2 separate regions of the Homo sapiens genome follow, and region 2 is linked to region 1. The links come from fine-mapping of genetic effects on gene expression. A gene starts in region 1. The other region holds a variant in brackets. All regions are shown on one strand. Distances are from middle to middle.

The links. PIP is the estimated chance that this variant, and not a neighbour inherited with it, causes the effect. A credible set is the group of variants that fine-mapping cannot tell apart.
Region 2: its variant is the best candidate, but not a certain one, in a credible set for the expression of SYT9 in prefrontal cortex (GTEx, PIP 0.77).

Annotation. Positions count from the first base shown.
Region 1 is chr11:7,249,599-7,254,972 of GRCh38, forward strand. SYT9 (synaptotagmin 9) reads left to right here and starts at 2,306. Exons shown (of 7, transcript NM_175733.4): 1 at 2,306-2,733. The coding sequence starts at 2,589. RefSeq lists a silencer at 2,199-2,338.
Region 2 is chr11:7,467,820-7,473,193 of GRCh38, forward strand. SYT9 (synaptotagmin 9) reads left to right here. Exons shown (of 7, transcript NM_175733.4): 7 at 1-1,224. Among named protein-coding and RNA genes, the nearest start is that of SYT9-AS1, 4.7 kb to the left of the region's middle. RefSeq lists an enhancer at 103-162. The variant G/A (reference allele first, on the strand shown) is at 2,429.

The DNA.
Region 1 (5,374 bases):
GTGTTTAGCACCTCGTACATTGTAGTAGAAACATAACAGAAACAGCAAAAACACATATTGGTTGAGCCCATACTATGTGGCAGCACTATTACAAGCACTTAAATATATTGCTTTATGTAATCTTTGTAACAGCCCAAAGATACACGTTATCTTTGAGATAAGATGAGAAACCCTAGGCACAAAAATGTTAACTTGCACAAGGTTGGTTGCATAGTAACTAGTCTGTCTAAATCTTGAATGTCTTACTGTCTACTTTATCCAAAGGACACTTTTTAGTTTTTTCTCTTTAAACTATATTTGAAAGTTTACAGTTGATGTTGCTCGCTCCTCTACCAAACACTCCTCCTCCCGTGATCCCTATGACTCCCCTCTGTACAATCTTTCCTCCTGTTCTCATTGCTACCTTCCAATCTCCTCTTTCATTTCTTCAACTCTTCTTTCTTGAAGGAACCATCCCATGTGGCAACTCAGTTTCTACCTTTCCAATGATGATTGCCAGTCTTCACTCTCTCCTAAACTCTAGGCTTGCATTTCTAAGTGTTATTAGGGTGTGAGCACATATGACCCAGGTAACGTTTTGAAACGTTTGTGCCTTTCACTTCTTTCTTATTCCATTGGTTGCAATCTTGTCACTTAATACTTGAAATGTTTTTCAAATTTGGATGTTTCTAGCAATCAGCTAATGCCTTTGGCCTGGTTTAGGCCTTCATCATCTCTTGCCTGGTTTATCAAAGTCATTTTTTAACTGAACTTGTTGCTTTCAGTTCCTCTCTGACATGATGGCATTAGGGTAATATTTCCATGTGCTTCAACACACATACCTTCTCACCATTACTATATGTCCCCCCCGCCACCCCCCCCCAGCATCACACTATCTCTGGTGTCACCTTCTCTGTTCATGGCCTTTTTCTTCTTCTCTAGGGGTTCCCCCCTTTGAAGAAACAGCATCTGCTCAACCTCCCCTACAGGCTCCCTTAAAGCTGGTTTCTCCTCCCTCTGTTTGTCTCTTTGCAACTCTCTGGAGGCATCTTTACCTTTACAACTTTGCATTTTCTCTGCTATTCCCATGTAAGTTCCCTGAAACCCTAGTACCATTCACAGCAGGATTTCAAAGGTTGCCTGTTGCGTGAGCATTCTATAGGATCCCAAATTATCTTTCTGTGCAAATATGAATTGTTGTGATATGTCCGTAGAGACGGCACAACCTCATGGCTAAGAATGATAGTTACCAGTTCTAGAGATCCTACTCTAATTGCTCTAGAGTGGGGGCCTGAACACCAGTATTACAAAAAAGACAAAAGAAAAAGAAGGAAAAAAGAAAAAAGAAAGAGAGAAAATCAAAGCTACCTTCATCATGTATGAATTTGAGCAAGTAACACCTTTGTGAGTCCCCAGGCCCCAGTTTCTCATTGGTAAAATGAGGATAACAATTACACAGACCTTGTTGGGCTATGTACAGAATTAAATGAGATTATGTACCTAAAAGGCTTGTGGCACAGTGACACACACACACACACACACACACACACACACACCCAGAGTACTTCGTGGTTATTTCTAGGCTTTACTGCTTGAAAGGCTGAAAAGATGGGTGGATGAGAGGTGCCCTGAGGTTCCTTCCAACTCTCCAAGATTCTGTGATACTCCTCCTTGGGTGCTGAAGACACTTTGGCAATGTTTGGATTTCCAAACGGTTGCTTAGAAAACTAAGGGACCCACGAAGCCCAGGTAAGCCTCAGGGTCTTTCCCAGGAATCGTTTATTTATTTGATCTTAGTTCTGACCTAGAGCCTCCACCTTCTCCATCCAAATCACCACAGTGGTCGAAAAGGGCCTGTGCTTGGGAAATCCTTCCTTTGTTGGCGAATCTTGGACCCAAACCCTGCATTTGGGCATCTGACACCCATAGGCCCATGGTTCAAACCCAGGCGGCTCTTTCCAAGTTCGAAGCAGGGACTCGGTTCTGCGCATCTGGCGGGTGTGCCCAGATTGTAACCTTCGCACTAGGCATCCAAGAACGTGCTTTGGACACACTCGGCGGTGGGAGCGGGTGCTTGGTTTGCATCAGGGATGAGGGGTGGAGTAGCGAAAGCGCCCGGAGCGCGCACTCACTCACACTCCCCAAGCCAGGGCGCGGCCGCTCTGGGCGCGAGGTCCCAAGCCAAGTCTCGCGCTCGGCCAGGAGCCGGGGAGTACCCCAGGTCCCCGGTCTGGGGCCGCCGCTATCCTACCCTGCGGCGCGCACTCCTGACCTGGCCCCGCCCCCCGGCGGCCGCGAGTAGCGGGCGGAGCGCAAGCAGAGAGGCGCTCTGGGCTGTGCGGCACCGCCTCTCCTCGGTGTCTGGGGAGGGACGGAGGGACCGGGCGGGAGAGAGAGAAAGCCTGACCGACCGGCTGGCGAAGAGCTGCATGCAACCGGTGGGAGGCCGGGCCGGCTGGGTCTGGGGCTCGGGCTCAGGCTCGCACCGTTTCTCGGCAGGTCCCTGGCGGTGAGCGCGGACGGCCCGGAGGCGGCGGCTCTGAGCTGGCAGGCGGAGGGCTGTCTCCTGCGCCCGCCTGCCCGGCGCGGTCCGAGGATGCGGGGGGGCGATGCCCGGGGCCAGGGACGCGCTCTGTCACCAGGCGCTGCAGCTGCTGGCCGAGCTCTGTGCCCGTGGGGCCCTGGAGCACGACAGCTGCCAGGATTTCATTTACCACCTGCGGGACCGTGCCAGACCCCGGCTCCGCGACCCAGGTGAGTGCCGCCACCGCCGCCTGGAGGGACCTAAGGGCCCTGGGCTGGGACTTGGGGCCGCACCGGGGCCTGAGGCAGAACAGCGACGCGGACTGGGAGAGGGCGGGGGGCGGCCACCGAGCCAGGAGAGTGATCAAGAACCAGCGCACTGTGGCCTGATGCTGTAACCAGGCGGGGACCCGGGCGGTGGCTACTGCACGGAGGCCGACTCCGGGTCGGCTAGGGCAGGGTTGGAGGGACCACGCCCGCCACCTGCGCTCCCATCGCCAAGGCTCCTGGGGGCGGCTCCCTAGCTCCGAGCTACGCTCTCCACTTCCCGGGCTATCTGCACTCAGAGCGAGGGGAGGCCGCGGCGGCCTCGGAGCCGTGGGAAGGGGGACGAGGCCGAAGGAAACTCTGGGAAGTTGGGAGTTGGGGACGGCCCCGGGTTGGGGCCGAATCCCACCGGGTGCTGCTCATCCTTTCTCCCAAGCGTCTAGTTCCTTTCCTTGGTATGGGGTGAGAAGGGCGGGACGCGATCCGGCGTTGGGCCGGGGACAGGGTGCTTCTGGCCTTGGGCAGACGGGCCTGAACCCGTTCCCGGCGGGTCGCACGGCATGGAGGTGGCCTGGGCCTGGGCGCTAGGCTCGACCAGCGACTACCGCCGGCCACGATGGGGTTCGTAGACTCGTCGGTCCTGGCTTGTGCACCTGTAGTTACTCCTAGTGAAAGTTGCAAAGCTCTTAACTTTGGAAAGTTCATTTATTTTGGCATTTGACCAATTAAGGTTGGAGGAGGGAGTTTTAGTGGAGCCATTTGCTTTTCCTGAGGTCCCTGGGTCTCCCAGGTCGTCTCATCCGTTACTGGCTACTGGAAAATGCATTCCTTCCAATGTTTGCTTGAGATGTTTCTCACCTGGAGAAATAGTTTTCTCGAATATTCTCCCAACCTAAGTACTTACCAAAACAGCATATTGTGGTTGGATTGTTAAAAATGGGATGAGAAAATGGCCTTTCTCTTGATATTGCTATGTATAAATATTGGAAATGAGCTATTGCCTTGCAAATTATGATGTACGAATTGAAAACAATTTATTATATAAAAATCCATTTATCCAAAAGATAAATTAAAGAATTATTTGATTTATAAAGAGTGTCACACTGAGCCAGACTTAAATAGCATATCCTTGATATATTCAAGATGGTCGTGTGGGGTGAAGTCATCTGCTAAAATTTTAAAGTTTATATCAGATTTTCCCTACCAGAGGCTTTTTTTTCCTATTGAAAAAGAAAAAAATATTGTTTTCCATTGCCGGTGGTTATATTAACTAAGTTTATTGAATGATCATTGATATATTACTTCAAAGTGGATAATTGGGTAGAGAAATACTGATCCCAGTGGTTTCCAGGGAGGTTTAATGTCCAGCCTATGTGCATCTCATTGCTGGATGTGATGTGCTGAATAAACCACAGTCCCTTATCTCACAAGCTGGAGTCCCAGGAAGATGTCTTAAGTCGGGGAAGTTCGTCCTTAAGCAGCAGAAGCAAGACAATTATTTTGCATGCTTTGCCCAAAGCAAGTATTAGTATTGAAACATCTCACTTCCTTGCCTGTGACCAGACCACGAGTTCTCCTTGTTATCCCACATAAGCAGTTGTCTTTGGCTTTACAAGAGAAGATGGATGAGGCCTATCTCTGAATCACATCTTTTTGGCCAGTTTTCTGCTTCTACTCCTTTTAATCCGGGAGCTGGATCCTGTGTTCTCAGATTCTCTTCAGCCCCTACACCAGGCAACCCCTGAGAAAGAGTCACTAAGTAGGCTTCTTACAAGAGGAAATCTGATTCCTTGGCGGAGGAATAGCTAGAGATAGGAGTCGACCTTGCTGCTCTGAGTTCCTGATAGCAGTGCTCTGCTTTCTTAAACTAGGACACAAGGGTTTTGAAGTAGCCCCATGCCCCTGTGGCTCTTTGGTTTTTGTTGGAAAGTAGCCAGCTCATGAGGACAGGGGTGGGGGTTTTCGAGTGCAAGGTGAGAGGAAATGAGGCCAAAGATTACATCCAAAGTGCACCCTCTCCTTCAGGACACTTCTCCCTTCATTTCCAAATCTCCCTTCATTTCCCTCCTTCCTTGCCTTGCCGACATTAATTCTTACATCAGATGCATTTGTCTTCATCCCTCTGAAGCAAGAGTGTCTTTAATCTCGGAACCCTAAAAGCTGAGTAGTAGAAAAGCTGCACCACACAACGCCGTGTGAATAATGTCCCTGCTGTTGATAGTGTGAACCAGAACAACCATGCACAGCAGCCCTGAGACATGGGTTCCTAGAGAGAGTCATCTCGGTAAATGGATGACTTCTTTTTCTGGAAAGGAATCCACCTGAATGCCATGTCCCAGCTTTCTCTGTTATTGTCCATTCACGGCCACCCTGTGATAGCTAGGTTTTCTCAAGCTGAACTAAGGACTTTGGTTATAAAAGGAGAAAAAAGATATAATTTCCTGTGGACAGCAAAGTGACCCTGCATCTAGGAAATTTACTCATTTTTTCAGAGGTGTGGAAAGACTAGGGCACAGACCAGCGGGCCTGAGCCATCAGAAAGGTTCTTTTTTGTCCAGGTAGTTATAGTGCCCTGTTGGGGGAGTACCGCACCCAGATTTCCCTG
Region 2 (5,374 bases), 220 kb after region 1:
AGAGGTTTCCTTCTCACTTCAGACACATACATCACTTTCACACCACTTGGGGATGGAAATACCTACAAGAGTGAAGGTCAAGGGCCCTCCCCAGGCATCTCATTCATTACTCAGCTTCCTTCCTGACCAAGTCTGCCAACCAATGGCCAGCTATGCGCCTCATCCTCATTGCTTCTGCCTCCACGTAAATGAAACCAAAGGCCTCAGCATATCCTGGGAGGACTGGGGGCTGTTACCTAATGGTCCTCTCTGTCCCATTATAGGTGCAAGGCACCCCATCCACACATTTGCACCACTACTCCAAGATAGTATTTTTCTTTTCACACAATCTCTTTACAGCAGAATCCAGAGTTGGATTGTAGTTTACCTTCCTGGAAAGCTCATTATCTCTGTTTGAATTAACATTTCAGCATGGAACTAACTGGGCGGAGGAAGGATCGTTATACGTCTTCAGAAAGTTCTCATTGCCCCAGCTGCCTAGTACTATACAAGAAGCTCTACTTTGATGGCAGATCTAAGAAGGCTATAGGCCTTTGTTTGTAGGAAGCAGTGTCATTACATTCAAGCTTCACTTCTCTGATTGGCTTCCAACCACTGGGATTCAAAGAGAATCCAAGGTTCTGCCTATGTCTGATGACATAAGGAAAACTTGGCTTCCTCTGCTCAAGGTTCCCCTCTGCTCATCCCTCCTCATTCAGACATCCTCCACCATACCAGTGTTTAGAAGCAAAACATGAAGGGCTAGCGCCACCAGGATAGTTAGCAGAAATATTGTCTGTAAAGCTAGGCAGATGAGCCCAGAAGAATGGTCCCAGAGAAAGCAGACTGGCTCCAATAGATATCAGGCAGCAATCCCAATAAATTCTGACATGTCCTTGGCAATGGAAGCCTGGGTTGGAGATCCTGAGGCAGCTGTGCCTACTGTTCCCCACCTCAGAAGCTTCCTGCCCAGAGAGCCAGCAGCCTTGGGATACTAATGAGGATGCAACTGGCTTATTGGTATGAAATAGAAGGTGGCTTTGTAGGGGCAAGCAGGCAAAGAGTACTATCCACATGGCAGGCAGGTGGCTTTGTGTCTGGAAAGCTTTGCCTAGCCAGTACAGCTGTGAGCAGAGGCTGGTTATAAATTTGAACTCCCTCAGCCCATTTGCAACTCTGCCTCTGTTCTCTTGCATTCTGTTTGGTTGCCCTTTAGTTTCCTAGTAAATGCTCCTTTTGAAAAACTCCAACCTTGTCTTATTTAACTTGGGGGAAGGGGATTCTCCAATGTCTTTTCCAGGATAAAGAAGGAAATTAAAATACCATGAAAAAATGGACATGGCAGTAGAAAGGAAACATTCTGATCAGACCTTGGGAAAAGCTGGTGCCGAGAGAGGGAGAGGCCAGGTGTCCCCCCACCCAACTGGCACTGATTCTCAGCCCCTTCCTCTTACTTCTGTTGGCTTCAAGGAGACCTGCCCTTGATGTGTGTTGCTGCTGAAGCACCCTCCCAGCCAGTGAGTTGGACATATGCAGCAGGCACTTTGATGTCCAGGAAGTACACTGGTACATGACAGGAGCAAGGGTCAGGGAGGGGAGGGGAAAGGTTTCTACAATGCAGATGTTTTCAAAATTCTCCAACAATCATGACTCTAAATGGTATGATTTAGGGCTGGGTGCAGTGACTCACACCTGTAATCTCAGCACTTTGGGAGGCCAAGGCGGGAGGATCACTTGATACCAGAAGTTCAAGACCAGTCTGGCAACATGGAGAGACCACCATCTAATTTCAAAAGAGACCCCCCGCCCCCCCGGCTAATTTTTAAAAAATTAGCAATGTACCTGTAGTCCCAGCTACTTAGGAAGCTGAGATAGGAGAATCGCCTGAGTCCAAGAGCTTGAGGCTACAGCGAGCCAAGATTGCAACACTGCATTTCAGCCTGGGTGACAGAGCAAGGCCCTGTCTCTCTAAAAAAGAAAAAAAAAAGGTATTGTTTAGTTCACATGGCCATCAGTAGAACTACATTTCATATGATGAGAAGAAAATAATTATTTATTTTACACTTGAGTCAGGGAGACTGACAAAGGATAGGTATGGAAAATGGCTTGCTATTTTCATGGCCACCCTGTCCTGCAATGCGGGGGGTGGGAGGGGGGACATTCCAATGACTTACTGCTGCATGACAAAGCACCAAAACATAGTGGCTTAAATAGAAATATATTGTCTCTCATGATTATCTGAGTTGACTGAGCTTAGTTGATGCTCTCCCCTGCAGTCTCATGGTTGCTCTCAGATGGCATCTGGGGCTGGCATCATCTGAATGCCTGCCTCGGATGGATGTCCATAATGGCTTCTTCACTCACATCTGGCTCTGGAATTGAGATAACTGGAACAGCTGCAGAATGGCTGGACATCTCTCTCCACATAGTCTCTCCATATGGTTAGTTC[G/A]GGCTTCCTCACCACAGGGACATCTCAAGATAGTGTTCTGATAAAGTGACTGGCTTCCTCCAGAGCTAGCATTGCAAGTGGTCCAGCTAGATGCTACAAGGTTCTGTTAAGTAAGTTCTAAAGGAACCTAGAGTCATTTCTGCCACATACTAGGGTCAAGAGCAAGTCATAATCTTGAATCAGCCCAGATTCAACGGGAAAGAAATTACACAAGAATGGAATACGAGAAGGTGTGGCTCATCAGGGCCATCTTTGGAGAAAGTGGGGATGGGAGTGGGAGTGGGGAGGTTAATGAGTTAAAGGGCTTCCTAGGTAGCTGTCATTTTAAAAGCACATCGAATGCTCAACACACATGGAGAATGCAATGAGTAATAAGGGGTAGAGAAGAAGGGAAGAGCTAAACTGGACAGTTAAACAGTATAAGCTAAAGAAAAGCAACCGATTCTGACTGATACAGTGCTTATGAACTTTCAATGAAAACAATTTTATGCAAAGTAATTTAATGAACTGAGAAAAGGACACTAATATGGATGTGAATATAGCCAAAAACAATGTCTACTGCCTGTATGTGGCTCCTGATAATTCTGCAGGCCACTTAGCTGCCCCTGGCCACCCACTTCACTGATAGCCACCTGGGACTATTGAGGGTGTCTAGCTTAGGAGTGCCCAGCCTCTGGTATTGCCATTCAAACTCAACCCAGAGAAGAAGGCTCACCTGTTGCTTACTGTGCCCTTCCACATCCTTACAAAGAGTATCTCTCTCACACAGGAGTCCTGAGTTGGTTGCTGGCACAGACCACAACCAGAGGCTGAGTGGCCAGTGAAACTCCTCTGAGACTCAGGTTTTCTCTCTAATGGGAATTCCTGACTCTTCCTTCTTCAGTCCTCTCTCGGGACCAAAGAGGAAGGACACCCCTCAGTATCCTTTGGCAATCACCGTGGACACTTCCGCAGCTATAGAGGTGTTGCTTTGGGATCATCTAAGACAGAGTCAAGCCTTTGGCAATGTTCAGGAAATGCTGGTATGTCTCTGAGATCAGCTTTCAAGAGGAGAGGCATGTTATGAATGGGGCCTTTCTGGGATAGCATACACTATTCTTTGTTCGTTCTTTCTTTCTTTCTTTTTTTTTTTTTTTTTTTTTTGAGATGGATTTTCGCTCCACTTCAGGCTGGAGTGCAGTGGCACAATCTCGGCTCACTGCAACCTCCGCCTCCCAGGTTCAAGCAATTCTCCTGCCTCAGCCTCCTGAATAGCTGGGATTACAGGCGCCCACCACCACACCCAGCTAATTTTTGTGTATTTTTAGTAGAGACAGGGTTTTGCCATGTTGGCCAGGCTGGCTTCGAACTCCTGACCTCAGGTGATCCACCCGCCTTGGCCTTCCCAAGTGTTGGGATTACAGGCATGAGCCACCACGCCCAGCCCCACTATTCTACTTTCTATCAAGTGCATTCCAAGATAGGCTGACCTTCATGGAAGAAGTGAAATAGAAAACTGAGGAAAAGAAAATAATTGGAAAAAAAGTCCCACAAGTCAAGAAAGTACCCCAAGGAAGACTTACAGGACAACTTCCAAGGCAAATGGGAAAAGAGAACATTGGCAATCTAGGAGCTGCAGGAGAGAGCCCTGGTCTTCATCCCTAAGCCCAGGATGAATGTGAGGCAAAAATAGTCTCTGTTCTTTTGGAGGAAGAAAAAGCGAGTGAGCAAGCAAGCAAGAGAGAGAGAAAGAGATAGAGAAAGAAAGAAAAAGAGGGAGGGAGGAAGGGAAGGAAGGGAAGGAAGGGAAGGAAGGGAAGGAAGGAAGGAAGGAAGGAAGGAAGGAAGGAAGGAAGGAAGGAAGGAAGGAAGGAAGGAGCAAGCTCTGAGCAGTGCCACAGACCTGCTTCCAGTGTCCCTGATATAAAGCTCTCTTTGCTCAGTCTCCCAAGAGAACAGATCAAGCTTCTCCCAAGGACTATGGCAGGAACCCACTTCCTTCTTCCACTCAAAAGACTTGTCACTTGCTGCTGGGATCCCTGGGCATATGGGCTGCAAAATTCAACTAGCTGCGTGATCACCTCTGTCACCTCACTCCCTGGTGTCTTCCCACTTGTGTCCAGGAGCTCTGGGCCTGGGAAGGATTAACAACAAAGATTAAAGATGGCCCACAAGGCCTCAGAGGATCAGGAGCCAGCCCTGAAGTCCAGAAATTTTGACTAAGCCTCTGTCATTAGGGTCTCCCAGCTCATCCATAGGCTAATGCCAAACTTTCACAACAGCTAGTGGTTCTCATGACACCTCCTCCTGGTAGAAAGGAAAGAATAAGTCAAAAGGACCTGGGCCACAGATTCTGTCCTCTTGAGTCATTGATTTTGCCTCCCTAAACTATATCTTAAGATAGATTACTCTGTGAAAGCTGGATGACCATTGCCAGACAATTTAAAAAGTATATATATCAATATGAAATGGATTGATGATAATATTGCATATTATAGTTTATAGCACATGGATGGTATTGCTTTTATCCATTTTCTTTATTTTTTGAAAATTGAATTTGTGATTTTAAACATTAAAGATAATAGAAAAATTAATTTTTTGGCTCAATACTAGATTTATTATAGCTATTATTCCAATAATTTATTCATTGAATTAAAGTTATTTCAAAACCATTTGACATAGGAATATTGATAGTTTTTTTTTCTACCAAGTGAACATCATCTTCAAGACATTCACACAATTTAGATAAAATTCCTTTTGCACAGCAGCTGTATCCAGAGGCTTGATCTTGGATTTAGATTTAAATTTATCAAAGAAAGGCAGTTTTTAAAATTTGCCTAATTCAAAGCTCAAAGACTAATGAAATCCTTTCTTCAAATACCTGAAGACATTTGTATTCAGGGCTCTAGAGATGAGCTTATGAACTCTATAAACAACTGGTAAGTAAACCTTCCAGAAACAAGTTTT